Homo sapiens: one gene and its partner. The protein of the gene in region 2 interacts with the protein of the main gene of each other region in a pairwise test. Each region holds a gene or a part of one and is shown on either strand. Other genes may lie near its edges.

Evidence for each region.
Region 1: the proteins of SLC35F6 (region 2) and FOLR1 interact in binary tests that used the Homo sapiens proteins (3 or more experiments, as listed by UniProt).

The regions. Positions count from the first base shown.
Region 1 is NC_000011.10:72,180,678-72,195,139, reverse strand, and holds the start of FOLR1 (folate receptor alpha precursor), read right to left. Parts: upstream 3,001-14,462; 5' UTR 2,967-3,000; coding exon 2,799-2,966; intron 1-2,798. UniProt on the Homo sapiens protein: Binds to folate and reduced folic acid derivatives and mediates delivery of 5-methyltetrahydrofolate and folate analogs into the interior of cells. Has high affinity for folate and folic acid analogs at neutral pH.
Region 2 is NC_000002.12:26,756,884-26,772,360, forward strand, and holds the start of SLC35F6 (solute carrier family 35 member F6 precursor), read left to right. Parts: upstream 1-7,400; 5' UTR 7,401-7,466; coding exon 7,467-7,543; intron 7,544-15,477. UniProt on the Homo sapiens protein: Involved in the maintenance of mitochondrial membrane potential in pancreatic ductal adenocarcinoma (PDAC) cells. Promotes pancreatic ductal adenocarcinoma (PDAC) cell growth. May play a role as a nucleotide-sugar transporter.

The DNA of each region.
Region 1 (14,462 bases), on a different chromosome or scaffold from region 2:
GCTATTGGGACCTCTTTAGGGGAGAGGGCCGTCAGAGACAGTGGGAGCCCAAAAGGGAGCTCCTGCTGGAGTTGCAGTCATTACAAAATTTGTTAATTCAACCTTTATTGAGATCCTACTTACTCTCACCCAGGTACTTTTGTAGAAACTGGGGTTACAACAATGAACACATCACCTGATTTTTGCTTTGGACAAAAATTAAGCAGAGACGGATGGGGACTTGTAGTGTAATAGTGCGGTCAGATTAAGCCTCACTGAGGTGTCAAAGATTTGAAGGTAAAAAAGCAATTTAAATTGTAACCCCAGGCTGGGTGCAGTGGCTTACTTGTGTAATCCCAGCACTTTGGGAGGCCAAGGCAGGTGGATCACCTGAGATCAAGAGTTTGAGACCAGCCTGGCCAACATGGTGAAACCCCGTCTCTACTAAAAATATAAAAATTAGGCCGGGTGCGGTGGCTCACGCCTGTAATCCCAGCATTTTGGGAGGCCGAGGCGGGTGGATCACGAGGCTAAGAGATCAAGACCATCCTGGCCAACATGGTGAAACCCCGTCTCTACTAAAAATACAAAAAATTAGCCGGGCGTGGTGGCTGGCACCTGTAGTCCCAGCTACTTGGGAGGCTGAGGCAGGAGAATGGTGTGAACCCGGCAGGTGGAGCTTGCAGTGAGCCGAGATCATGCCACTGCACTCCAGCCTGGGCGACAGAGCAAGACTCCATCTCAAAAAATAAACAAACAAAAAACTAGCCAAGTGTGGTGGCGGACACCTGTAATCCCAGCTACTTGGGAAGTGTTTTGTCCCTGACTAGCTGCCTCACCCATTATCTGTTTGTGGAATTTGTGATACAAAAAAACAATGTATAGCCAATCAATTGTGGATGTTATTTTATTATAAGTTATTGAGAAACAACTTAGGAACTAATCTTTTTCCTTAAAAACTAACTTGTGATGGCTGCAAAATTCAGGACAACTTGAAACTATGCTCCTGTGTGCCTATCCTCAAGCTTCCTGAATCTCATTACTTAAGGCTGACAAGCTAAATATTAAAATGTGGGCCGGCACAGTGGCTCACATAGTGCCTGTAATCCCAGCACTTTGGGAGGTGGAGGTGGACAGATCACTTAAGGTCAAGAATGGAGACCAGCCTGGCCAACATGGCAAAACCCCATTTCTACTAAAAATACAAAAATTAGCTAGGCATGGTGGCAGGTGCCTATAGTCCCAGCTACTCTGGAGGCCAAGGCAGGAGAATTGCTTGAACCTGGGAGGTGGAGGTTGCAGTGAGCTGAGATTGTGCCACTGCACTCCAGCCTGGGCAACAGAGCAAGACTCCATCTCAATAAATAAATAAATAAATAAATAAATAAAATGTGCACTTAAGGCCGGGCGCAGTGGCTCACACCTGTAATCTCAGCACTTTGGGAGGCCAAGAGGGGCGGATTATGAGGTGAGGAGTTCGAGACCAGCCTGGCCAACATGGTGAAACCCCCATCTCTACTAAAAATACCAACAAACAAAACAAACAAACAAACAAAAAATTAGCTGGGTGTGGTGGCGTGTGCCTACTCAGGAGGCTGAGGCAGGAGAATCACTTGAACCTGGGAGGTGGAGGTTGCAGTGAGCTGAGATTGTGCCACTGCACTCCACCCTGGGCAACAAGAGCAAAACTCTATCTCAAGAAAAAAAAAAAGAAATGCGTATTACAAGTTTCTCTCCCTTGCCTCCCTCCCTTTCCTCCCTCCCTTTCCTCCCTCCCTTTCCTTCCTCCCCTTCCTTCCTTCCTTTCTTTCTTTTTTTCGTTCTTTCTTTCTTTTGACAAGGTCTCACTCTGTTGCCCAGGCTGGAGTGCAGTGGCACGATCTACAATCTCTGCCTCCTGGGCTCAACTGACCTGCCCACCTCAGCCTCCTGAGTAGCTGGGACTGCAGGCATGTGCCACCACACCTGACTAATTTTTTTTATTTTTTAGTAGAGATGGGGTTTTGCCATCTTGCCCAGGCTGGTCTCGAACTCCTGAGCTCAAGTGATCTGCCCATCTCGACATCCCACAGTGTTGGGATTACAGGCGTGAGCCGTAACACCTGGCCTACAAATTACTTTTCCTCTGCTTTTTCTTTAGTTATATCATCATGTTCAGGATATTAAAGGGGTGGTAGCAAAATAAATGTTATAGGGAGACCTCAGGTCCAATGTGGTCGAGAGACACAGCCCAAAGTTTTGCGAGATGCATGAACCAAGATGCTTCAGGAGGGCGTACGGCTCATTTCTGTAATCCCACACTTTGGGAGGCTGAGGTGGGAGGATCACTTGAGTCCAGGAATTTGAGACCAGCCTGGGCAACATATGGAGACTTTGTCTCAGGAAAAAAAAAAAAGAATGCTTTGCACACAGCCTCATAATGTGAGAGACTCTCCCTTCTTGAGCTGTTTAGGGCTGGCAGAAAAGAGGCCACTATGCACAGTGTGCAGTTTCTTCCCTCAGATCTTTGGAGGAGTCATTCCCAGTCTAAATCCCTAAATCAAGCAACCCCAGGATGGGTCACTCCAACTTCATTTCCCAGGCTCTCCTTTGGGCCTGCTTCCTTATTTCTGTAATGCGGAAACTCAACAACCAAGAAGGTGAACTGTTGGCATTGTACCGACATTTGGCACAGTGTCTGTGAAATAGTCACCCATATTAATGCAAACTGAAGGGCTCCTCCACTTCAGTTCACCAGTGAATGGGGTTTGGCATTTCCATGTCCTCGTTTCCTCTTCCTGAGCCAGTCCCTCACCACCCCAGATCACCCCCTGGCCCACCTGCTCATGCAACTTGTCCTCGGGGCCTGGCTTTTCCTTGTGGTGCTTGGCGTTCATGCAGACATTGAGAAGCTCAGTCCTGGCCCATGCAATCCTTGTCTGAGCCTCCCCTACTACAGCCACCCACACTAGAAGGAGCAGCAGCTGTGTTGTCATCCGCTGAGCCATGTCTGTCCCTGAAGAAAGAGCTGTGGTCAGTGGCACCAAGGAATGCGGAGGTGGGGCCTTAAGTTGTGTGCAGGGCTCCAGGAGGGTGGGGCCTGGACGGAAGCCTGGGGCAGATAGAGCCCTGCCCCCATCTCCCTCAGTTTTCCCAGATCCAATGAAAGGTAGGATTAGACACCACCCCTCCCTGGCTTGAGCCTCATTGCCTTCTCCAGGTGGTCACGAGGTTCAGGTGATATAATTCAAGGATGGATTTGGGCAAAATGCAGAAATAGCCAGGAGTTTGCCATAGGTCCACAATGCCTTATTCAAATGTTTCAGGGTTAAAATTTTTTAGGATTTCATCAAAGGTGATTCAAAGAAAATATAATTTTCATATACCCAATAATCAAGTGTATATTCTGGGGTGAAACAGTTACACTAGTGGGATAAATTAAAACTATACATAAACTCACATTAATTTTCAGGTCAGATTTTGACACCAAATTACTTCATTGTAAAAGTTTACAAAAATGGGCTGGGCGCGGTGGCTCATGCCTGTAATCCCAGCACTTTGGAAGGCTGAGGTGGGTGGATCACCTGAGGTCAGAAGTTTGAGACCAGCCTGGCCAACATAGTGAAACCCTGTCTCTACTAAAAATACAAAATGAGCTGGGTGCGGTGTCGTGTGCCTGTAGTCCCAGCTACGTGGGAGGCTGAGGCAGGAGAATCACTTGAATCCAGGAGGTGGAGGTTACAGTGAGCCAAGATTGTGCCATTGCACTCTAGCCTGGGTGACAGAGCGAGACTCCATCTCAAAAAAAAAAAAAAAGTTTATAAAAATGTTTTAGTTGGGGGGGCTGCAGTGTGGTTTTTGTTAGTTTGTTTTGCTTTTTAAACCTTGGTCCCAGCCCCTTTCTAGCCTCATCACTCAAGCTAGTTTAGTAGGCCCTTCCCGGAAACCATGGGATCTTGGTGGGGTGGGGTCACAGGACATGGGTGCTGGCAGGGGACAGCCAGCTGGACAGCCCTGGGGCCTTGGGGAGCTCCTGTGCCCCCTACCACAGAGCTGGCTTCTCCTTGGTCATCACAGAACTTCAATCCTTTGACCTCAGACACTGAATTTTGGGAGGCGACTGTTTCCTTCACTCCACTGGACACCAGGTGTCTGGGCCCTCCTAAAATGCTCAGAATTTATTTCCTATGACTTCTCTCCATCTGTCTCCTCTAACTCATCTTCCACATACCAGTCGCTAAAGTGGACATGCCTTTCCCGCTCACAAGCTTGCCTTGCCCCCGTGCTGCCCCTCCTCTCCTCTTGACAGGGCCTCCTTGACAGGGGTCTAGGCAGGGCCTGAGCTGGGCTGTCTCCAGGCCGACTGCACAGCAGGGCTCATATAAGCCTGGAATTGAATTCCCACCCAGCAGCTCTCTTTCCTGCTCCACAATCCATTACTCTGCTACTCTATTGATTCCAGTGTTCATTCACTCTCTCATGGTTGATTCATTCATTCCAGGATCCAATCATGCCCCTGTGGACCTGCTCACTCACTAACCTTGAGGGCCACGCCGGAGAAATCTGTACTCTCAGGGAATACCAGGTGATCCTTTGGGTTCAGTTCCTGCGGGAACAAACCCTAACTGTTTAGAGCACAGGGTTCCCGTTCAACCTGTCCCGACCCCAGCCCTCACTCCACCTTCTCCTTGGCCTTGGGGGAAAGAGAAGCAAACTATCTTGAGGCTTAGCTTTCTCCTGCAAGGATTAAATGTAAGAAGGGGGAAATCAACAAATGATAGCCAGTTTAATCTTTGTGGAATCATTTCAGCACAGATGAGGGCCATGCCCCAAGTCACACAGTAGGGACCACCCAAGTTCAGGCCAGAGCTCTTTTGGCCTTTGCCCCCTGCACCTTCAGAGTGCTGAGGCTCTCATGGGTGCGGCCAACACACAGTGCTGGGGATGGGGGCTGAGAAAATCCTTTCCCCAGCCCCCAGTGGAGCCCACCTGTTCAGTCAGTAGTCTCTCTTGCTGTGGCTGCTTCTGAAGCCAGGCTCTCTTCCTGTCCTTTTGAGCAGCATCACTCTGCAAGCTCCTTTCCCACCTGCCTAGTCTCACCTTCAGGTCTTAGTCCAGCTGTGACCCCTCCCCACCAACAATCATGACCCCCACACCCAACCTTGGGGCCCCAGACTAGAAGAGCTGAGAACTCAGCTCTGGACTGAAGGGCTAGAGCCCAGGTACTAGTTCAGGGGGATGAACACTAACTTGTCGTTTAACCTTGAGCAGGCCACACTCTGGTCTGGGCCTCAGTCTCCACTTCAAGATTCTCTGGCCTTCAGGCAAACAGAGGGCCCTTCCAGTTCAGAAAATCCTTAACACATGGTGGGAATGCCATAGGGTGTGTGGCCTCTGAAGGGGGATGGGGAGTGTCACATACCTGGGAGAGGAGGTGGCTCTCCGTCTGGCTCAGGCTTCTGCTCTGCTCTACACTCCCCCTTGCCTTATTCCAGGGGACAGCTGTGGTTTAGTGGCCTAGGAGACAGGCAGGGAGTGGGAATGGAGCCCAGGAGTGGAGCCTGGGATTGGGCGAAGGCCACTCAGCAGTTAATTATTGTATGTGAGCACCAGCCAGGCCTCCATGGGGTAGTGGGAGGGGGTGAATTAACAGTGCAGGCCTAAGGCCAGTCCCTAAGCTCCACCTACCCAATTTTTTCCCAAACACTGAGGTCTGAAAAAAATCTTGCAGCCTGAGCTGCCAGGATCCTTTGAGCTAATCTCATCAGTTTCCAACCCCTCTGTCCTGTTAGGCAGATGAGGAAAATGAGATCCGGAGGATCAAGGCAAGGGCTAGAGCCCAGGCTTCCAACCTCCCAGTCAGCTATAGAGAGCAAGGATCTCCCAAGGCCATAAATTGTAGAGCCACCAACTCCCCCAACCCCATTAGCCCAGGTGTCACCCATCACCAGCCACAAAATCACAGATGTTCTGAATCTTTTGATCAGATCTTCAATTGTTTGAAGGGCCAAGCTCTCCTTCCATCCCCAACTCATGGACCCCCTCTCCCGGCAACTCAGGTATCCTTTCTACAGCACCTGTGATTCTGGGCTAACTCTTCCCTCCATCTCCACCCCAGTCAATGACAGAAGCCTTCATTTTTTTTATTCTCTGAGCCCATGGTGGTACCACAGATGGGAAAAGGGAGAGGGAGGGGCAGGTTTGGGCAGGAAGAAACATAGAACACTGTTTTGTCGAGGTGCCTGTGTGCCCTTGGCCCGGGGAAGGTGGTTGTAGAGGGGAAAGCTCAGGGGAAGAGTCCAGGTTGGATGCAGATGTGGGAACCATCAGACTATGAGTGGCAGTAAGTGTAGGGAAAATGGGGGCCCAGTAATCTGGGCAATGCCACAAGAAAGGACCCAAGGAGGAGGCAGGCAGGGGAGCCTGAGAAGACAGTTGGATCTCTAGAGGAAAATCAACCAAGAAGGAAGGCTCTCTAGGGCCTGCAAGCAGACCAATTCCCAGGAGATCCCAGCTTATGTCCTGCAACAGTGAGCCATACCTGAATCTTGTGACAACCTGAGAAGTGTCAACTTAAAATCACCAGATCTATATATTTGGAAACAATATTTTTTCTTATGTCAGGTTGTAACCTGCAGGCTGGTAAGTGGAGCCTTTGGCTGAGACCAAAAGCAGGCAATTTGAGGGAGGAAGGGTGGGACAGGAGTTTTATGTAAAATGGGTTGGCTAGCATACATATTAATGGGTTATAGGAAAAGCTATGAATGTTCATGAAAGGGAGCCACATGCATGTATACTAAGCAAACATACATGTTACATACATCTTGTGTTCACTTTGGGGTTGAGATTTAACATTAATTTTTTTATTTTTTCATTTATTTATTTATTTTTGAGTCGGAGACTTGCTCTGTAGCCCAAGCTGGAGTGCAGTGGCACGATCTTGGCTCACTGCAACCTCCGCCTCCCAGATTCAAGAGATTCTCCTGCCTCAGCCTCCCGAGTAGCTGGAATTATAGGCGCCTGACACCATGCCTGGCTAATTTTTGTATTTTTAGTAGAGATGGGGTTTTACCATGTTGGCTAGGCTGGTCTCAAACTCCTGACCTCAAGTGATCCGCCTACCTCAGCCTCCCAAAGTGCTGGGATTACAAGTGTGAGCCGCGGCACCTGGCCTGTTTTTTTTTTTTTTTTTTTTTTTTGGGCAGAGTCTCACTCTATCACCCAGGCTGGAGTGCCGTGTCACAATCTCGGCTCACCGCAACCTCCACCTCATGGGTTCAAGTGATTCTCCTGCCTCAGCCTCTAGAGTAGCTGGGATTATAGGTGTGCACCACCACACCCAGCTATTTTTTGATATTATTTCTTAGTAGAGATGGGGTTTCACTGTGTTGGCCAGGCTTGTCTCAAATTCCTGGCCTCAAGTGATCTGCCCACCTTGGCCTCCCAAAGTGCTGGGATTATAGGTGCGAGCCACGGCACCCGGCCTATTTATATTTTTATTTAAAAATAGTGAAAGAAGGCTGGGTGCAGTGGCTCATGCCTGTAATCCCAGCACTTTGGGAGGCCGAGATGGGCGGATCACCTGAGGTTAGGAGTTCGAAACCAGCCTGGCCAACATGGTGAAAACCCGTCTCTACTAAAAATAAAAAAATTAGCTGGGCATGGTGGCGCACACCTGTAATCCTAGCTACTATTGGGGGCTGAGGCAGAATTGCTTGAACCTGGGAGGCAGAGGTTGCAGTGAGCCAAGATCACACCACTGCACTCCAGCCTGGGCAACACAGCAAGACTCCGTCCCCCGCCCCCGCAAAAAAAGAGAGAGACAGGGTCTCACTATATTGCCCAGGCTGGTCTCGAACTCCTAGGCTCAAGCAATCCTCCCACCTTGGCCTCCCAAGGTGCTAGGATTGCAGGTGTGAGCCACCATGCCCAGCCAAGACTTAACCTTAAAATGCAGTCTTAGGCCTGGCATGGTGGCTCGCGCCTGTAATCCAAGCACTTTGGGAGGCCGAGGCGGGCGGATCACGAGGTCAGGAGATCGAGACCATCCTGGCTAACATGTGTTATGGTGAAACCCTGTCTCTACTAAAAATACAAAAAATTAGCCGGGTGTGGTGGCGGGTGCCTGTAGTCCCAGCTACTCGGGAGGCTGAGGCAGGAGAATGGCATGAACCCGGGAGGTGGAGCTTGCAGTGAGCCAAGATGGTGCCACTGCACTCCAGCCTGGGTGACAGAGCGAGACTACGTCTCAAAAAAAAAAAAAAAAAAATGCAGACTTAGGCTGTACACATCAAAAGGCGAAACATAGGACACAAAGGCACTTTGTGTGCCGCCTCTCTAAATTGGCCAGAACCACCCCATGGTTAATAGGAATTGATCAGGAAGGAATGCTTTGTGAGCTGGTCAGCTGTCATATCAAAATCACAAAAAGAGGCCGGGCCCAGTGGCTCATGCCTGTAATCCCAGCACTTTGGGAGGCTAAGGCAGGTGGATCCTTTGAGCCCAGGAGTTTGAGACAAGCCTGGGCAACACAGCAGAACTCCATATCCACAAAAAAATACAAAAGTTAGCTAGGCATGGTGGTGTGTGCCTGTAGTCCCAGCAACTTGGGAGACTGAGGCGGGAAGATCACTTGAACCCAGGAGGCAGAGGCTGTAATGAGCCGAGATCATGCCATTGCACTCCAGCCTGGGTGACAGAGCCTGTCTCAAAAAAAAAAAAAAAAAAAGAGACCCTGTCTCCAAAAAAAAAACAAAAACAAGAACAAAACAAAATAAAAACACGAAAAAAAGAGGGACGTCTGGCCACAGCATCAGGTGGTTGAAGTTGAAATCAGCAGGATTCTTCCATCTGTTTTCCAGGACTGGTTTCTTCTTAACTGTTAGGAAAAAAGTCGGTAACAGTAAGGAAGAGGGTGTACTGGGGTGTGACCAGCCTCCTGTCTTATCATAGCCAAGAAACTTAGATTTTGAAGTTTTTGTGGGGTCTCCTTGGCCAAGATGGGTTTGTTCAGTCAGTTGAGGGGGCTTTGATTTTCTTTTCTTTTCTTTTCCTTTTTTTTTCTGAGACAGAGTCTCGCTCTCTCACCCAGGCTGGAGTGCAGTGGCGTGATCTCGGCTCACTGCAACCTCTGCCTCCCAGGTTCAAGCGATTCTCCTGGCTCAGCCTCCTGAGTAGCTGGGATTACAGGCACCCACCACCATGCCTGGCTAATTTTTGTATATTTAGAAGGGACAGGGTTTCACCATGTTGGCAAACCTGGTCTTGAACTCCTGACCTCAGGTGATCCACCTGCCTCGGCCTCCCAAAGTGTTGGGATTACAGGTGTGAGCCACCGCACCCGGCGGGTTTTCTTTTTATTTCACATTTCCTCTTTTTAGCTGAGATCAGCCACAGGCAGCATCAATGGCAAAATTTGTATCATGTTGTTGCCAGGATGGTGAGGTTGCCTGCTCCAGGTCCATCCAGTCCTTTGGTGGGACCCTTGTGGCCAAGAGACTTATAGCCAATTGAACTCTGGCCAGACAGGAATAGAGGTGGGCAGACCTCAACCCCTAAGGTCTATCAAGCAACATAAAGGCCAAAAGGTAGGGCTACCAATTTAACTTGTCTATAAGATCTACGCATTGAGCCAGCATAATTCTGGTTTTAGCAGCAGACTTACAGCAGTTGGTTATACATATTATAGGTAATTAAATGTTAAGAAGAAAAGGTTAATGGAGACTATTACTATAACAAGGACTTGAATGGCATCTTGAAAGGAACTTCCCAGTGTGGTAGAAAGCCAACTAAATAGGTAATTGATGGGATCAGTAGTTCATACATCTTGTAACCATTTAGCTTGTTTGGAAATTCTTTTTTTTTTTTCTTTTTTCTTTTTGAGATGGAGTCTCGCTCTGTCGCCCAGGCTGGAGTGCAGTGGCACAATCTCAGCTCACTGCAACCTCCGCCTCCGGGTTCAAGCAATTCTCCTGCCTCAGCCTCCTGAATGCAGCCTCCTGATTACAGGCATGCACCACCACACCTGGCTAATTTTTGTATTTTTAGTGGAGACAAAGTTTCACCATGTTGGCCAGGCTGGTCTCGAAAGCCTGACCTCAGGTGATCTGCCCCCCTTGGCCTCCCAAAGTGCTGGGGTTACAGGTGTGAGCCACCATGCCCGGCTGAAAATTATTTCTGTATGAATTTCTTTTCCTTTTTTGAGACAATCTCACTTGGCACCCAGGCTGGAATACAGTGGCGTAATCTTAAATCTCCACTCTCTGCAACCTCCCCCTCCCAGGCTCAAGCAATTATTGTGCCTCAGCCTCCTGAATAGCTGGGATTACAGGTGTGTGCCACCATGCCCAGCTTTCTTTTCTCTTTTTATTTTTATTTTTTGAGACAGAGTCTTTCTCTCTCTCCCAGGCTGAAGTGCAATGGCATGATCTCTGATCACTGCAACCTCCGCCTCCCAGGCTCAAGCAATCCTCCTGCCCCAGCCTCCCAAGTAGCTGAGACTACAGGTGTGTGCTACCATGTCCTGTTAATTTTTGTACTTTTTGTAGAGACAGGGTTTCCCCATGTTGCTCAAGCTGGTCTCAAACTCCTGAGTTCAAGCGATCCTCCGGCCCCAGCCTCCCAAAGTGCTGGGACTACAGGCATGAGCCACTGGGCCCAGCCCTGTATAGTTTCTACTTCACTTGAAATGTTGATGTAAGTGCCACAGATCTTAGGGACCACCACACAGACTCTTCCCTGTTTGGCTAAGAGAAAATCTAAGGCAATTAAATTATCTATTACTACTTGAGCCAGGGAATTCAGAGACTTTGTTGGGCTGGAAGGCTTTGTGCAGTATCTCCAGCTACCTGTTCAATAGTGGCAGATAGTTTTGAATGTGCTGGTCAAGTTTTGAATTAGACTCCTTCAGTTTTGAATTAATCTCATTTAAGGAGGTTATCTGAGATTCCTGTGTTTAGAACTCTCATAATACCACTTAAAAATGGTCTCCCATGGGAGGATTCCTTGAGTCCAGGAATTTGAGACGAGCCTGGGCAACATGGTAAAACCCTGTTTCTACAAAAAAATTAAAAATTGAAAATAAATTAGCAGGGTGTGCCGGTGCATGACTGTAGTCCCAGCTACTTGGGTGGCAAAGGTGGGAGGATGGCTTGAGCCCAGGAGGTCGAGGCTGCAGTGAGCCGTGATTGTACACAACGCTCTAGTCCCCGTGACAGAGTGAGACCCTGTCACACACACACACACACACACACACACACACACACAAAAGGGCCTCCCATTGCTTCTCAGAGGTCTAGAACTCTCTCTGTTCTCATTGTGCCTACTAATAAACGAATTGAGGCATGTCAAACGTTCTGTCAAAAGATCTCCATTTTGGCATATAAAGCTTTTAATTGTTCCAGGTTAGCTTTTTCTAGGATCCCAAATATTCACAAGACTTTTTCTCATAATTCCGAAACATGTAACTTCCTGATGGCAGCTGGTCAGGGACTGTCTGTCCCCTTAGAACCTAGGTTCCCCATAACAGCATTTACTTAAAGACGTCCCTGCGAGTGCCACTAGAGGGCAAGCATCCTCACCAAACCTGATGGGCCGGATGAGTCAGGCTGAACTGCCCCCAACCTCCCCCACTAGAAACCCAACACAGCAAAGATAGCCCTTGCAGGGTCTGGATGGAGAGGATCAGAGAAAAAAAATGAAGTCTCTGAAATGTCAACCTAAAACCAGGAGATCTTAGATCAGGGAGAGCTTACCCACCTTCCTCCCAAAGCTGTCAGGGAGACAACTGAGCTGTCAATGGCTCCACCAGCCACCAGTGCATTCACTCACGCTGCGGGGAGCCTGGGCTGCTCTGTGGATCCTACTCTTGTCTTCAATTATATTGGCTTAAAATCACAAGATCTTTACATTTAGAAAGGAGAGCTTTCTTTCTTTCTTTTCTTTTTTCTTTTCCTTTTTTTTCTTTCTTTCTTTTTTTTTTTTCAGACACAGTTTCACTCTATCGCCCAGGTTGGAGTGCAGTGGCACGATCTCACTGCAACCTCCGCCTGCTGGGTTGAAGCGATTCTCATGCCTCAGCCTCCCGAGTAGCTGGAATTACAGGTGCCCACCACCATGCCTTGCTAATTTTTGTATATTTAGTAGAGACAGAGTTTCACCATGTTGACCAGGCTGGTTTCAAATTCTAGACCTCAAGCAATCCGCCCGCCTTGGCCTCCCAAAGTGCTGTGATTACAGGTGTGAGCCACCTCGCCCAGCCTAGGAGAGCTTTATTTCTTATGATGTGCAGGCTGGGAAGTGGAGTGAGGGTAGAACAAGGGTTTTATGCTAAAAGAGTTGGCTAAACATACATATTTAATAGGTTTTAGGAGAATCTATGAATATTTGTGATAGTTGCACACATGTGTACTAAGCAAACATACATATTACATATGTCCCATATTCCCTTTGGAGTGGAGACATTAAAATGCAGTTGATACCGGGTGCAGTGGCTCATGCCTGTAATCCCAGCACTTCAGGAGGCTGAGGCGGGTGGATCACCTGAGGTCAGGAGTTCGAGACCAGCCTGGCCAATATGGTGAAACCCCATCTCTACTAAAAATACAAAAATTAGCCGGGCATGGTGGCAGGCGCTTGTAGTCCCAGCTACTCAGGAGGCTGAGGCAGGAGAATCCCTTGAACCCAAGAGGCGGAGGTTGCACTGAGCAGAGATCGCGCCGCTGTACTCCAGCCTGGGAAACAGAGTGAGACTCCATCTCAAAAAAAAAAAAAAAAAATGCAGTCAAATTTGCCTCTGTATGTCAAAAGGGGAAACACAGGACCCAAGCACTTTGTGTGCTGCCTCTGTAAACCAGCCAGAACTGGTCCATGGTTGGGAGTCATTGATCAGCCAGGAATGTTTTGTAAGCTGATCAGCTGTCATGTCAAAATCAGGTAAGGAAAGGGAATCTGGCAGTTGGTTGAAATCGAAATCAGTGAAGGAGTCTCCTGTTCTTGGTTTTCCAGGGCTGGTTTCTGTTTAGCTCTTGGGAAAGAAGCCTGGTAACGGTTCGTGAGGAAGCTATCATCACGGCCAGGAAACTTGGATTTTAAAGTTTTTCCGGGGTCTCTTTGGCCAAGAGGTGTCCATTCAGTTGTTTGGAGGGTTGAGGATTTTATTTGTATTTCCCAGAGGGTTGAGTCCTCTTAAGACCTCAGCAGGTAGAGGCCTCTGGAACCCTCAGGCCTCTTTCCTTCTTTATACCCCAGTGCTGATGGGAGAAGGGCAGGCAGGTGTCTAGGAACGCCTGAACACGGGAGCTCCTCTAGATGGAGCTCCTGCCCTCTCATCCACTGCCCATGGCTTGGGGGCTGATCATGAACTGAACTTTATGGCCCCTCCACTGCAGGAGTGAGACCTGCTACCTGAGGCAGTTCCCTAGGCCATGAGGGCTTCAGAATAATACCAGCAAATGGAAGGTTGGGTTGGAGGTCAAGTTCAGTTCCTCTGGTAAGTCCTCACCACTTGTGGAGTCTCAGAGCCCTGCTCTGAAGGATGAGGTGGTGCGCCTATCTGGAGTCTGGGTGCTAGGGCCAGCAGGGAGGGACAGTCAGGCAGTCAGCTTGAACCAGTCCAGAGAGTATCTGCCTGAGCTGGAAGCTTAATACCACAAGGTTAACCATTGGCATTCCTTCTAACCCCAACCCGAAGGCTGCCCTAGGACCAGGCAGATAACAGGAAGGTGTTTGGCTCACAGAGGTGGAGACTCTGGGCTTCAGGAAGCAGGAGAGGGGCCTCAGAGTGGGGAGGAGAGAACCCTGAGGTCTTCCCTGAGTGCCAGCCTATCACACATGCAATCTCACCTCACTCATCTTCCCAGCTGCAGAAACTACTGATCTCAGTCCGATTCTAAGCCTGCCTTCTTTCACCTAGCAGTTGCAGGAGAGAAGCTCTGTGAGGGGCCCACAGGGCACCGTCCTAAGGAATGCAGATCCAGTGTTTCTTCTTTGGCCTTAACCGCTGCCCACTCCCCACATAACTTCTCTCTCAGCCACCCTGGAATTCTGCTCGCACTTCTATTACCTCTAAGCCTTTGCACTTGCTGAGACCTGTCCACGGAATGCCATTCCCCGTGCTGTTTTGTGCTTGGCAAACACTCCTTTGGAAGCCTTCCCTGACCTCTTTGGGCTTCAGCAGAATAACACCACACTCTGTGCTTCCCTCTGTGAAAGCCTCATCTCCTTGTTCTAAGAGTCACTGGTTCTCAGAACTGTCTGTCCCCACCAGACCTTGCAAGGAACTCAATTCCCTTTCTGTTGGCTGAGACCAGCATGGGCCAGTGAACTGGATGCTCAGAAGGACTTGTTGACTGACAGAATGGATGCAGCGATTCCTTAACTTACTGAGCACATTCTCGGTGCCAGGCACTGACCCAGACTCTGGGGATATAGCATAAAATGACACAGACACAGCCCTGCTTTGGGGAGAGTATGTTTTGTTAGGAGAAAGGCTGACAACAAACACA
Region 2 (15,477 bases):
TATGATTATGAGGCCTGGGTCACATGACAGGCAGCTGTAACCTCTGTTTCTCCGATTAGATTAGCTTTTTTCCTTACCTACATTGTTTTGTAAAATGTAAATGACTGAAGGGTGCCAAGGAAGACCCCCTTGCTTCACTGTTGATCTTCATTACAGATTAACTTTTTTTTTTTTGAGACCAAGTCTCGCCCTATTGCCCAGGCTGGAGTGCAGTGGTGCGATCTCAGCTCACTGCAACCTCCGCCCCTGGGTCCAAGTGATTCTCATGTTTCAGCCTCCCAAGTAGCTGGGATTACAGGCACCCGCCACCATGCCTGGCTAATTTTTGTATTTTTTAGCAGAGACAAAGTTTCACCATGTTGGCCAGGCTGGTCTCAAACTCCTGACCTCAAGTGATCCACCCACCTTGGCCTCCCAAAGTGCTGGGATTACAGGCGTGAGCCACCGTGCCCGGCCATTACAGATTAACTTTCTATACAAAGACTTCATGACTATCACGTTGTCTAAGATGGGATGTTAAATACACTCCTCTCAATTGGAAAGGAAATAAAAAGTTGTAAAGAAAACAAGCTCTATGGAAAAGAAAAACTAACTGTTGTAACTCATAAACAAGCCTGTTGCAGAAAATGTTATAATCCTACTAAATGTATTTGTTTCCTGCCTATATAAGCTAAACCTTAACTTTTTTGGTTTTCCCCCAAGCCGACCAGGATGAGAAAGACCTTAACTTTCAACTTTGGAGCACTGGCCCCATTTCTCTGGTGCCTGTGTTTCTCAGGTGGTTACTCCCAGCTTTTCACTTGCATAAACTATTTAAAATTGAATTCTGAACCTTTTGATTATTTCAGGTGGATAGATAGATTTTGCAAAGCCTATGCATGTACATATTCACCCTAATTCTGTTACCGGAAAGGGGTCCCAATCCAGACCCCAAGAGAGGGTTTTTGGATCTCGAGCAAGACACAAGAATTCAAGGTGAAGCCACAGAGTAAAGTGAAAGCAAGTTTATTAAGAAAGTAAAAGAATAAAAGAAAGGCTAATCCATAGGCAGAGCAGTGGCATGGGCTGCTTGACTGAGTATACTTATAGTTATTTCTTGATTATATGCTAAACAAAGGGTGGATTATTCATGAACTTTCCAGGAAAGGGGCGGGGATTTCCTGGAAGTGAGTGTTCCTCCCCCTTTCTGACCATAGGTCACTCTTGTTGCCATCTTGGTTTTGGTGGGTTTTGGCCGGCTTCTTTACTGCATCCTGTTTCATCAGCAAGGTCTTTGTGACCTGTATCTCATGCCAACCTCCTGACTCATCCTGTAACTAAGAATGCTTAACCTCCTGGGAATGCAGCCTAGTAGGTCTCAGTCTTATTTTACCCAGCCCCTATTCAAGATAGAGTTGCTCTCGTTCAAATGCTTCTGACGATTCCTCTGTATTTTTTTCAGAATTCCTGTCTCTTTGGGCCCTGATACCTTAGCCTGGGGCTCACTGCTACCTGGAAGCACTAATGCAATCCTAGTTTTCTCCCCTAAAGCCCATTCTAGCCAGGTGGCAGGGACGTGGAGCCTCACTGTAGGTCACACCCTGGCGTGAAGGGCTGATCAGCCACCCCATGGTGTCCACATGGTTGTCTCTGCCTGGGGTGACCCTGCTTTCTGCACCTGGAGCAATCCTGCTCCTCCTTCAAGTCCCTACTCAGGTCTCCTCTGAATTCCAGTTCTACAGGGCTACTGTGAAAACCAAGGCCACAGAGGTCAAGCTTCAGGCACAGGCCTGACACAGGGCACCTGGTCCAGGACAGCTCTGATTGTCACTGTTGTCCCCTCTCCTTGCCCACTCCCTTAGGTAATCCATCCCTCCCTCAACCCCCTCTGTCTCTTACACATTCTCACATTGCTGCATGGTTAATGCAGTGTTGACCCCTCTCCTCCAATGAATCTCAAATTCCTTAAGGGCAGTGACCTTGTCTTGCTTCCTTAGGACCCCATATCTGGCTCTAGGCCTTAAACTTAGTGGACTCCACGGATATTTGCCAATAAACTCTGTCTCCTGGGATCCACAGACAGCAGTTTGATGAATGGTCAGGACATTGTGATAAATTAAAATTCATTGTTTGATGTGGCTATCGACACAGACAGAGACTGTGCTGCTAGTGACATCATGTCGGTCTGGTAATTAATAATGATCATTAGTAACGTTTACTTCAGGACAGTGCCCTTGGCCTGGACGTGTGGGGAAAATGGTCCAGAGCCTCACCGACTGAGTCACTGTGCCCTGTAGGAACGGCCTCTGATAGGGATGAGTGCCTGCTGCTGTGGGCTGCCCCAGTCTGCCCCTTGGGACAGAAGCTGTGTTTTATTCATCCTACATCTCAATAAACATTTTTTGATAAATCAATGAACTCCTTTGAAATCACACAAAACTAGAGGTGTTGTTGGAGACAAGCGGTTCAGAAGAGACCAGGCATTGTGGCTCAAGCCTGTAATCCCTGCACTTTGAGAGGCCAAGGTGGGTGGATCACCTGAGGTCAGGAGTTTGAGACCAGCCTGGCCAACACAGTAAAACCCTGTCTCTACTAAAAATACAAAAATTAGCTGGGTGTGGTGGTGTACGCCTGTACTCCCAGCTACTTGGGAGGGTGAGGCAGGAGAAGCCTGGGCAACAGAGCAAGACTCCATCTCAAAAAAAAAAAAGTTCAGAAGAAACCTCTTCTGGGTCTTCCAACTCCGCACTGACTGAAAGGAGAAGAGGCTCCAATTAAAGAAAATTCTAGAACATTCTGTGGGTCCCAGGCTTGTTCCACACTCACACCTCTGCACCGCTGTACATGCCATGTCCATCTGCAAGAAAGCCCTTCTGCTGTCTATCTGGGGACCTCCTATGTTTTTTCCAGGATCCCACTTATACACCTTCTCCAGCAGGTCTTCCTGCAATAAGGGAGTCTGGTGCAGCCCCTTGAGAGTTCTGCGTCCACTCTGGCCTTTTTCACAAGTTCGAGGCTGTCTTAGGGCAAGTAGGAGGAGTTGGCAGACAGGTCCTATCTCTGTACCTCTTGTTGATCTATTTGTTTAATTTAAAAAATTTGTGTGTGTGTGAGATAGGGTCTTGCTCTGTTGCCCAGGCTGAAGTGCAGGGGCATGACCACGGTTTACTGCAGCCTCAAAGTCCTGTGCTCAAGCAATCCTCCTGCCTCAGCTTCTCCAGTAACTGGGCTCACAGGCCCGCACTACCACCCCTGACTAATTTTTAAGTGTTTTTGTAGAGATGAGGGTCTGGCTATGTTGCCCAAGCTGCTCTCAAATTCCTGGGATTAGGAGGCCTCAGCCTCCCAAAGTGCTAGGATAACAGGTGTGAGCCACCACACGGGCCACCTCCTGTTCATCTAAAATGAAGTTGCTAGCCATCTGGGCGTGGTGGCTTACACCTGTAATCCCAACACTTTGGGAGGCCAAGGTGGGTGGATCACTTGAGGTCAGGAGTTCAAGACCAGCCTGGCCAACACGGTGAAACCCCATCTCGACTATAAATACAAAAAATGTAGCTGGGCATGGTGGTGCTCACCTGTAATCCCAGCTACTCGGGAGGCTGAGGCAGGGGAATTGCTTGAACCTGGGAGGCAGAAGTTGTAGTGAGCCAAGAATGTGCCACTGCACTCCAGACTGGACGACAGAGCACCACTTCATCTTAAAAAAAACAAGAAGGTGCCAAGGCACAAAATATAAGTTAAACAGTTTACTTGAGCCAAAATGAGGACAGCTGCCCAAAAGACTCAGACGCAAGTAATCTTGGATGTGAGCTCCCTTCTCTCTTTGTTACAAACAGGTTTTTAAAGGCAGAAAAAGGAGGACAGGGAGTGGGCTGATACAAAGTTGTTTGTCAGAAATTCTCATTGGTTTACAGAAATAACATTGATTAGTGATTGGCTGTACAGTGCTATAGGATGTAAGATATGGTGTCCAGTGCAGCATTGTTAGGTTATAGCTACCTGTGGCAATAGCAAGCAGTTTCAAGACATAAATACATAACTCAAAGTGGGAGTAGGACGTGATTGCTGTCTTATTTTAATGTCTCTCTGGGCCTGATAACTTACAGGACTCGCATTCCTCAGGTAAAAGTTCTTTTCTCACCACAGAAACAAGATCTGCAGCATAGGGGAAGTGTGTTGGCTCGGTCTGAAGTCGTTTTCCAAAGTGTCAGAGACATTTAAATCAGAGCAACTCCATCTTGAACAGGGGCTGGGTAAAACGAGGCTGAGACCTACTGGGCTGCATTCCCAGGAGGTTAGGCATTCTAAGTCACAGGTCGAGATAGGAAGTGGGCACAAGGTACAGGTCACAAAGACCTTGCTGATAAAACAGGATGCAGTAAAGAAGCCGGCCAAAACCCACCAAAACCAAGATGGCGACAAAAGTGACCTCTGGTTTTTCTCACTGCTTGTTATACACTATTTATAATGCATTAGCATGCTAAAAGACACTCGCACCAGCGCGCGACAGTTTACAGATGCCATGGTAGCAACTGGAAGTTAACCTACATGGTCTAAAAAGGGGAGGAACACTTAGTTCTGGCAATTGCCCACCCCTTTCCCAGAAAACTCATGAATAATCCACCCCTTGTTTGGCATATAATCCAGAAATATCCATAAAAATAACCAATCAGCAGCCCTCGGGGCTGCTCTGCCAATGGAGTAGCCATTCTTTATCCTTTACTTTCTTAATAAACTTGTTTTCACTTTATGGATTCCCCGCAAGGTGCCAGGTCCAAGAACCCTCTCTTGAGGTCTGGATCAGAACCCCTTTCTGGTAACAAAAGGATCTTGTCGCTGGCGTGACAGGGCATGGGTGCAGACTAGAGCACTGGGAAAGGCATATTAGGAGCAGTTTTTTCTTTTCTTTTTCTTTCTTTTTTTTTTTTTTTTTGAGATGGAGTTTTCGCGCTTGTTGCCCAGGCTGGAGTGCAATGGCTCGATCTTGGCTCACTGCAACTTCCATCTCCCAGGTTCAAGCGATTCTCCTGCCTCAGCCTCCGGAGTAGCTGAGATTACAAGCATGCACCCCCACACCTGGCTAATTTTTTGTATTTTAGTAGAGATGGGGTTTCACCATGTTGGTCAGGCTGATCTTGAATTCCGACCTCAGGTGATCCACCTGCCTCAGCCTCCCAAAGTGCTGGGATTACAGGTGCGAGCCACCGCGCCTGGCCTTTTTTTTTTCTTTTTTTAAGACAGGGTGTCACTTTGCCACCCAGGCCGGAGTATAGTGGCATGATCTCAGTTCATTGCAACCTCCACCTCCAGGGACTCAAGCGATCCTCCTACTTAGCCTCCTGAGTAGCTGGGATTATGGGTACTTGTCATGACACTCAGCTAATTTTTGCATTTTTAGTAGAGACTGAGTTTTGCCATGTTGCCCAGGCTTGTCTGGAAATCCTGAGCTCAAGCAATCAGCCCGCTTCAGCCTCCCAAAGTGCTAGGATTATAGGTGTGAACCACCACACCCAGCCAAGAGTAGGATTTTAAACACCAGAACCCCTTGAGGACTAAGCTCTGATTTTTTTTACCTTGCCCAAATTCCTACCTAAGAGGTCTGGAGAGTCATGCCCTACAAACCATAAATTCTCATCAGATGGGTTTTATTTAACCCTATATATCATGACTTACTTTCCAATCTGACTCTGGCATAATATTATGTGACTAAGAAGAAAGTCAAAAGATTTTACCCCAAAACATTTTTCTTTGCCATATCTTGAAATGGCCCTGCAAATCTGTCTTTTGTGGGGGAAAATTTGCATCTGTAAAGAATCTCTATTACCGGCCGGGCGTGGCGGATCACGCCTGTAATCCCAGCACTTTGGGAGGCCGAGGCAGGTGGATCAGGAGTTCAAGACCAGCCTGGCCAACATGGTGAGACCCCCCCCATCTCTACTAGAAATACAAAATTTAGCCAGGCGTGGTGGCAGGCACCTGTAGTCCCAGCTACTTGGGAGGCTGAGGCAGAGAACTGATTGAATCCGGGAGGTGGAGGTTGCAGTGAGCCGAGATCGCACCACTGCACTCCAGCCTGGGCGACAGAGCAAGACTCCGTCTCAAAAAAAAACAAAAATCTCTATTAACATAGATAGATATTTTTCCCGTTTCCTGCCCCACCCTCTCCCCTCCTCCCGGCTTTGAGTTGTCCTACCTTTCTGGACCAAACCAATGTATTTCTTAAATGTATTTGATTGATGTCTCGTGTCTTTCTAAAATGCTGCGCCCCGACCACTTTGGGCACATGTTCTCAGGACCTCCTGAGGGCTGTGTCACGGGCCATGGTCACAAATATTTGGCTCAGAATAAATCCCTTCAAATATTTTAGAGTGTGACTCTTCGTCAACACCCTCTTCAAACAAACCTAGGGATGGTCTTTCTGCCTGGATGCCTCAGCTGCGACCAGAAAGTCCACAAAGGAGCAGTGAAGCAGGGCTTGGTGCAGAGGCCATGCGGAAGGCACGGATTTTTGGAGACTGGAGAACCCAAGCGCAAATCCCTACCCCACTGCTCACCAGCAGGTTCTTAAGCAAATCACTCTGCTTCGCTGAATTTACTGTCCTCAGCTATAAAATGGTGTCCTCGGCAACTGGAGCTAGATGCCTTCGCCACTTTGCTGAAAGATATGAACTGTGCCCAAGGTGGGCGGTATCAGATAGGAGCCCCGAAGTGGAAACGTCCAGCGTGGGAATCTCCTCTCTACAGGGTCCCCAAGGAACTCCCGGCAGGCCCACTTCAGGGCTCCTTTCTGACACCGCCCAGCTCAACCTCTCAAAACGATTCACAAAATGCTGTAATAGCCACGATGCACCCTCACTGCACTGTCCCATCCGCCCCTTTTACAAATAGGAAGACCCAAAGATAAAAATAAGAAACCAAGGCCAGGCGCGGTGGTTCACGCCTGTAATCCCAATACTTTGGGATGCGGAGGAGGGCGGATCACCTGAGGTCGGGAGTTCGAGACCAGCCTGGCCAACATGGTGAAGCCCTGTCTCTACTAAAAATACAAAAAATTAGCCGGGCGTGGTGAAGGGCGCCTGTAATCCGAGCTACTCGGGAGGCTGAAGCAGGAGAATCGCTTGAACCCAGGAGGCGGATATTGCAGTGAGCCGAGATCATGCCATTGCACTCCAGCCTGGGCGACAGAGTGAGACTCCTTCTCAAAAAAATAGAAAAAAGAAACCCAAAAAGGCGGGGGAGAGTGAGGAAGAAAAGAAAAAAAAAACTGGAAGGCCTGGGCCGTGATTTGCCAGGGCCACGGCGTGGCCACCAAAGCGCTCCAGGACGACTCGGCAGAGCGCGGGCACCGTGGCTCAGGCGCGCTCCCCGGGGGCGGGGCGAGCAGGAGGGGTCACGTGACGCCCGGCCCGGAAGCGCTCGCGCAGGAGACCCCGGGTGACGGGGCCCGGCGCCGCTAACTGGAGCGAACCCCAGCGTCCGCCGACATGGCCTGGACCAAGTACCAGCTGTTCCTGGCCGGGCTCATGCTTGTTACCGGCTCCATCAACACGCTCTCGGCAAAGTGAGTCTGGGCCCTGCCGGGCGTGCGGGCCCTGGCGACCCCGGCGCTCGTTCTACGCCTTCCCCCTTCTTGGCCCTGCCCTCCTGGCTTCCCCTGCTTTCCCACTTGCTCCGGTCAGTTCGCGCGCGTTATGACCACCCAAGGGATGCGAGGCCCGGGGAAATGCGGAGCGGGGCTGCGCCCCGGACGGGGGGATCCGAGCCCCGGCTTTGATTTGCTGTACAGCCTCCGCTCCTGTTTCCACGTCTTTTAACAGGAGGGTTGGCCGATTCCTTTCCACGGCCCTTCCAGTGCTGGCGTCCAAGCCTGAGCACCTCCCTCCACGAGCTGGGAGAGACCCCTGGACTTGTGCACATGAGCCGCAGTAGTGGCTGTGCAGGCCGAGTGACCCAGTGAGCGTGGAGGCCTCAAGCGGCAGACAGGGAGGTGCCCCACGGCCCCTCAAGGATGAGGGGTTAGAGCTGTGCTTTGAAGCTTAGGTGGGATTTCGGAATGTGTCTGAGACTGTAAGTCAAGGAAAGTCTACGGAAAGGCCAGATCAAAGTCGATTGTAACCAGCATCAAATGCCCAGGTTAGATTTTCTCTCATAATCAGAAAAGTGCTTTTGAGCTGGGGAATGACATGTTGAAAGTGATATGATTGACTCAATGACATGAGGAGTGGTTTGGTGCAGGAAAAACCACTCCAAGGCTGCTGCATAGCAGATGAGGGGAACTAGGAGGTGGCAGTGAGAAGAGAAAGGAAGGGACAACTGGTGGCAGAGACCAGGTGTGAATGGCCACAGGCCTGACCCACATGAGCAAGAAACAAGGATCACTCCAGGGTTTCTGCCTGGGAGAAGAAAAGTGCCATTAACTCAGACAGAGAGGGCAAGTGGCCAGTTCAGCTCTGATGTATGGGGGTGAGAGGGGGGACAGTTCCCAGGAGGTTAGGGACTAAGGACCCAGGCAGTCATGAGACTGAGGGACAGGGCCTAGCCTCCCCTCTGTTGTGGGCAGGATGGCATTTCTTTGTCTCTCTCTGTCTCCATCTCAGGGCAGGGCCTTCCTGCCCCTCCTTTTCTTGTTGCCCAGGCTGGAGTGCAATGGCACGATCCCATGTATAAGGTACCTACGGTGTGTAAGGGAAGGGGACAGAAGTGACCAAGAGGCGATCTCTGCCTTTGAGATGCTTGGAATCTGAGGTGGAGGAGACAGACGTGTACGCACACGACAGTCACAGTGTTCTCCCTTCCCCAAACGGTGGGCACAGTCAGTGGAGTCCTGGGTGGGCCCCACCTGTTCCTCTGGTTCACCTCTGGCCAACTGTGCCTTGTGGAGAACTACTAGCTTCCCAGGCCCTGCATCCTCCTGAGGATCACTCCTCATGCTGAATCCTTAGCTGTTCAGAGGCCCCAGCCTGAGGGCTCCCATCTCAGGATCTGAACACAGCAAAGCAAGTCTTCTGTTCTGTCATGCCAGCCAGGGCCTCTGTCAAGTGCTTAGAGAGCGGTTGTAAGTCCACCAGGGCTGCTGCCCACAAGGAGAATCCAGATTGCCAGTTACTGCTGGGGTAAACTGTGCTGATTCACCTCCTTCCTTAGAAAACTCCAAACCAGTCAGGTAGGAAGCTTAGAGATCCTCAATCCCAGAAGGCGTCGCCTTTAAAGGCTGCCTGAGAGTCAGGAAAGAGGCTCCCAGGTGACAGACCCAACTTTTGGTCCTGTCCCCTGCCTGACAGCTGGTGTGGGGCCTCTCAGGATCCTCCCACCCCAAGATGGGCCCCCAAATTGGACCCTAAACAGTGTTCTAAGGTCAAACCACAAGAAGGGATACTCTTAGGGAGAAAGAACATGTGGGAGCAGCTGCATGCACCCCGATGTGAAGTATGGATTTGAAATCACATTTCTGGCCCGGCGCGGTGGCTTACGCCTGTCATCCCAGCACTTTGGGAGGCAGAAGCGGCTGGATCACTTGAGGTCAGGAGTTTGAAACCAGCCTGACCAATATGGTGAAACTGCATCTCTACTAAAAATACAAAAATTAGCTGGGCGTGGTAGTGCGCACCTGTAGTCCCAGCTACTTGGGAGGCTGAGACAGGAGAATTGCTTGAACCCGGGAGGCGGAGGTTGCAATGAGCCAAGATTGCACCACTGCCCTCCAACCTGGGTGACAGAGTGAGACTCGGTCTCAAAAAAAAAAATAAAAGGAAATCACATTTTTGACCCACGATTTCCAGCAGGCACAGACAGACAAGCATGTGCTGACAACTAGCAGAAGCATCTCATGCACAAAGAGCACCTCGCATGCCCCAGGCCCTGCTCTGCCCTTTCATGTGTGAACTCAGGGAATTCTCATAACCACCCTATCAGGCAAAGACAGGGGCTGATATTCCTGTATAAGGAAACTGAGGTAGGAAATGATTAAATTCCTTGCCCAAGTTCAACTTAGCTACTAAGTGGCAGAGTTTATAGTTGAGCCAGCATGGTCTGGCTCTAGCATCCATGCTCTTAACCACCACTGGAGGGTGTGGCTGGGGACTTCTCCAGTCATTTTGGGGTCATTTAGAGTTGTTAAAAGCATAGAAATCATCCAGTCTAATCCCCACAATTTACAAAGGAGGCCTCAGGAGAAGTTTCTTTCTGTGATTCAACTGTTTGGTGTCTGAATGAAGGCTGGAACCCAGGCCTCAGGACTTTAAGTCCTGTTCTTTTATGACTGTGATACCCCAGAGTCCCTCCTTCCTGGGAGTTTCCTCTCACAGCTCCCCAGGCCAGGACAGAGAAGCCTGTGCTTGTGGAAGTTGTAAACCTGTAAGTGGCATCTGCGCTCCCAGCCTTTGATGTGCCTCTCTCCAGGACTGGGCTGCCAGCCTCTCAGCCAGCCCAGAGACACTGCTGACAGGGTCCTCCCGCTGGAGTCCAGGCCACTCAAGGTTCAGACTGACAGCCTGTGGTTGTCTCTGGCAGTTTCTTGGCCTGTGACAAGAGTGATGTTTCCCTTCCCAGGTTCTTGGGAGGATGAAAGGCAGTGGATGAGGAAGCACATCTGAGCACGTGCTGCCTGCTGTGCTGGGGCGGCAGGTCAGCTTTCCTCTCTGCGGCCCCATCCCTGGGTCCTGGCAGGGGGCCCCTCCCTGTGAAGTGGCTTCTTCTTTCCCTGGCTGTTTTCTCAAAACCTCCTCACTAGCACCTTCTGTCGATCATCTTCTTTAGGCCAAGCCATTTCTGTCTACGTGAGCCAGTGCCCCATCCACAGGTACTCATTTCAGAACCCCAGTCTCCTGAATCCAACTGAGGTTCTACATATGAAGAGCCGGGGTCAGCTGGGCACTGTGGCTCCAGCTTGTAATCCCAGACTGGAGGCTGAGGTGGGATGATCATTTGAGCCCAGGAGTTCAAGATCAGCCTGGACAACATAGGGAGACCTCGTTCTCTACAAATAATAATAATAAATAATTAATTAATAGAGCCAGGGTCAAGTAGATGCTCACTAAGTAAGGCTCAGCTCCCCTCCTAAGTTCTGCAGGCTGTAGGGCCCTCCCAGCCAGGCAGGGATATGAGCCTGACTTCCTTTCATGCCCAGGCCAGGGACCCTGCCAAGAAGGTGGCAGGAAGCCTGGAAACCACTAGGCCTCTACTAGAGAAGAGGTGTTTGCTCTTCTTCTGTGTCCTTTCTGTGCCAGCTCCAATGTTTGCCCTTGGCAGCTGCCCCACCACCCTTGGGTTCCATGAACTGGCATGGGATAATTGCTTCAAAGGGGTTGTTGGGCCAGCTTGTGGAAGCCTTAACTCAGGAGGACAGTGTAGTAGAGTGGGAAGTTCATGAGGCTTGGGACCTGAGGAATAGATGAGCCACTGGACCTCTGTGAGCCTCAGTTTTCTCATCTGTAAAATGGACTTGGTGATCCCTGCCGTACCTTCTTCCTGGACACTGAAGATCTACTGAGGAAGGTTTCCTTTTTTTTTTTTTTTTGAGACGGAGTCTGGCTCTGTCATCCAGGCTGGAGTGCAGTGGTGTGATCTCAGCTCACTGCAAGCTCCGCCTCCCGGGTGAACGCATTCTCATGCCTCAGCCTCCTGAGTAACTGGGACTACAGGTGCCTGCCACCATGCCCGGATAATTTTTTTGTATTTTTTTAGTAGAGACAGGGTTTCATTGTGTTAGCCAGGATGGTCTCGATCTCCTGACCTCGCCCATCTCGGCCTCCCAAAGTGCTGGGATTACAGGCATGAGCCACTGTGCCCAGCCTTTTTTTTTTTTTTTTTTAAGACACGGTCTCTCTCTGTTGCCCAGGCTGGAGTGCAATGGTGCCATCTAGGCTCACTGCAACCTTGAGCCATCCTCCCACCTCAGCCTCCCAAGTAGATGGGACCACAGACACCCGCCACCGTGCCCACCTAATTTTTGTATTTTTTGTAGAGACAGCGTCTTGCCATGTTTCCTAGGCTGGTCTCAAACTCCTGGGCTCAAGCAATCCACCTGCCTCAGCCTCCCAAAGTGTTGGGATTACAGGCATGCACCACCACACCCAGCTTAAGGAAAGTTTTCCATTCCATGGAGATGAGAGGGCTCACCATTGTCACCTCAGGAGCCAGGGCCACCTGCTGTGGCACCCCAGAGAGTGGAGAAGCCTTGGCCCTTCTGTAGGTCCCAGGCAGGAGAAAGAAGGGGACTCACTGGGCTTGACAAGCTGGGGACACAAGAGGAAGTGGCAGAGATTCTGTGGGAATGGCCACAGCTAATCTGCCCAAGCCAGCCCCATCGCCACTTCCTCAGTCTGTTTTCGCCACCCCCGTTCACGTGGACGTGCACACCTCCCAGAATGCTGAGCTTTGAGTTTGGGCCTGGCCATGCTAGGGAGTGACTCACCACCCAGCACGGAGAGCCTACTCCCCAGCCTGCCCGCCAAAAGGAGCGGCCTCAGCTTGTCCCCGCTAGGACCCTTCGGGCCTCCTGCCCTGGAGGTCATCTCCCCTAGAATACAGTGTCTGTGGAGAAGACAGGCCCACCTACTGGGCTGCCCCTCTCCTCCCACCAGCTAGGGGAGCAAGAACTCAGAGGAGAGCTTCAGAGCATCAGGGAGGGGGCGCATGACTGCCTGCTGAGCTTCCAGTGTACTGGCCCTGTTTCAACATCTGAGGAGCCGTGAGCCCCTCGAGCCCTCTCTGGCCCCTGGGTTCCTGTCTGTCAAATAAGGAGTTCAGCTGATGGCTGAGTTTCTTCTGTTTCAGCATTTTGGCTCTGTGAACTGCAGGGACAATAGCCTGAGGTCCCTCCAGCCACCTCTGCCTCAGCCAGCAGGACAGGTTCCAGACGTTTTTCCAGTAGCTTTCAGGCTGAAGGGGAGCTGGGGCCACGCTGAACCCAAGGGGGAGATGGCTTCTGCTCAGTGAAGGGAAAGGAGAAGGGGCAGAAAATGAGTTTTGCTGAATACCTGCCATGTGCCAGGTCATGTATATATCCTTATATCATGTATTGCTTCTGACAGTTTGTCAGTGTTGGTATGATTACCCTGTAACTTGTCCAGCCTGTGGGACTCAAAACTCTGGGTTTTCTCTGTATTCTGCCTTTTCTGAGTATAAATTCAAGCAAGGTTTAACCCTGGATCTGCCTTAAGCCTCAGAGTCCCCATCTAAAATGAGGATCCTTGTTGTAAGGCTTAACGGGACAGTCCCCATGAAGTGTCCTATGAATTGTGCATTTAAGGAAACATGGGCTGGGTGCAGTGGCTCACACCTGTAATCCCAGCACTTCGGGAGGCTGAGGCAGGTCAATCTCTTGAGGCCAGGAGTTCGAGACTAGCCTGGGCAGCATAAACAAGGCTGCATCTTTGCAAAAAATACAAAAATTAGCCGGGCATGGTGGCCCATGCCTGTAGTCCCAGCTACTCAGGAGGCTGAGGTGAGAGGATCATATGAGCCTTGGGAGGCTGAGGCTGTAGTGAGCCGTGATTGTGCCACTGCACTCCAGCCTCAGTGACAGAGTAATACCCTGTCTGAAAAACAAAACAAAAAAACAAACGTTGTTGGCCGGACGCAGAGGCTTATACCTGTAATCCGATCACTTTGGGAGATTGATACGGGTGGATCACTTGAGGTCAGGAGTTCGAGACCATCCTGGCCAACATGGTGAAACTCCGTCTCTACAAAAAATATAAAAATTAGCTGGGCATGGTGGTGGGTGCCCGTAATCCCAGCTACTTGGGAGGTTAAGGCAGGAGAATCACTTGAACCTGGAAAGCAGAGGTTGCAGTGAGCCAAGATCGCGCTGCTACACTCCAGCCTGGGTGACAGAGGGAGGCTCCGTTTCAAAAAAAAAAACAAGAACAAAAACAAAAGACAACAAACAACAAACGTTGTGAAGAACTGACAGCAAAGTGCTGCCCACCTTAGGGGTCACTGCTGTCATCCCCAGGCAAACTGGGGCTGGATTTTTGTTCTAGCCTGTGAGGCTGGGGTCTTTTCTGATTCTGCGCCAGGAGTCGAAACCTGTCTCCAATCCAGGATGAGAAGCCTGGCTTTCTGCCCCAAGGTACCTGCAGGCCTGAGCATCTCAGGCTGGGCAAGGCAGCCCATGCTGCTGACACCCAATCCCTTGGGCTGTCAGCCTGCCCCAGGCCCTCAGATACAAAGAGATACCATTTCCCCAGCCGGGAGCGCTGCCAGCCAGGCCTGTCTAGGCAGACCTACCCGTGGAGAAAGCGAAGACAACCCCTGTGGGAGGTGGGGAGCTCAGCACCAGCCCTACAGTCAGCTCCCCAAGAAGCGCCCCAGCCTTGGGGAAGGACAGGCCCCGAGGGGTTTCCCCTATGGACCAACTTGTTCTACCAGCAGGGGGCCCTCAGACTCAGGTGGGAAGTAGGACTCATGGAAATGTGGCCTCAGCTTCCATACCTGCCCCCTACAGACAAAAATAATAATAAAATAAATAATAATCCTTGCCTGAAGCTTCTGATCAACCTTCATGGCCTGGCAATAGCTCCCTTGTCCCTCCTAGAGGAAACTTGGCTCCTGGCCTGGGGATTCCCATCTCTCTGACTTCACTTGCTCTGGGCAGTTGGCTCTGTGCCCTTGGTAAGGCTTGACCTCTTCTCTCTTCCTTGCTTTGCCTCTGTTTCACTCAGTTGCCTCATGCAGGCCTTCTCAGGGGGCTCTTTCTGCAAAAGCAAGACTGGGTTCGAGAGCAGCCCTGCTGGGTCTGTGGCCCTTACCCATGTTCCATGTCCTGTCCTGGCCAGGGATCCAAGAGCCAACAGCATATCAGGCAGAAATTAGGCACCATGGGTGCAGTGGCTCATGCCTATAATCTCAGCAACTCAGGAGGCTGAGGCGGGAGGATTGCTTGAGCCCAGGAGTTCAAGACCAGCCATGGCAACATAGTGAGACCCTCTCTCTAAAAAAAAAAAGAGAAAGAAGTGAGACTCCAGCCCATGAGGTCAGGTGTTTCCTGACCTGGGGTGGAGGCTTCCCCAGCTCCCAGACTCCCTGTTCCATAGCAGGCGCTTTCTTTGCCCCACTGGTACTGGTTACAGCCTGGTCCCCAAGCCATGCCAGGCTCCAGGTTTCTCTCTGCCTTCTAAACAGTTCTGTCCGAACTTCTCCCTTCAACTCTCCTTTGCCCCTGCCATTCCCAAGAACCACAAGGAATCTTAACTACCCCTCTTTCTCCACATCTCCAGGAGCTGGTGGGGTCTCTCACTATGGAATAGGTTTGCCATAGCCCTGTTTTCTTCCGCAAACTCAGAGGCATATAGAGAAGCCAAAGCTGGACAGGGACTTTGTCAAACCTAGACCCTAACTGCGGCACAACCAGTGGCACATGCTCTGGGTGCTGCGGGGGAGGTACAGGAACCAGAGGACTCCCCCGCCCTTTGGGAGCTGAGGCTCGCTACAGAGATGAGCCAATGGCAGTGCAGGGCTGTGCACTGCAATCTGACTGCCCTGGAAAGACAT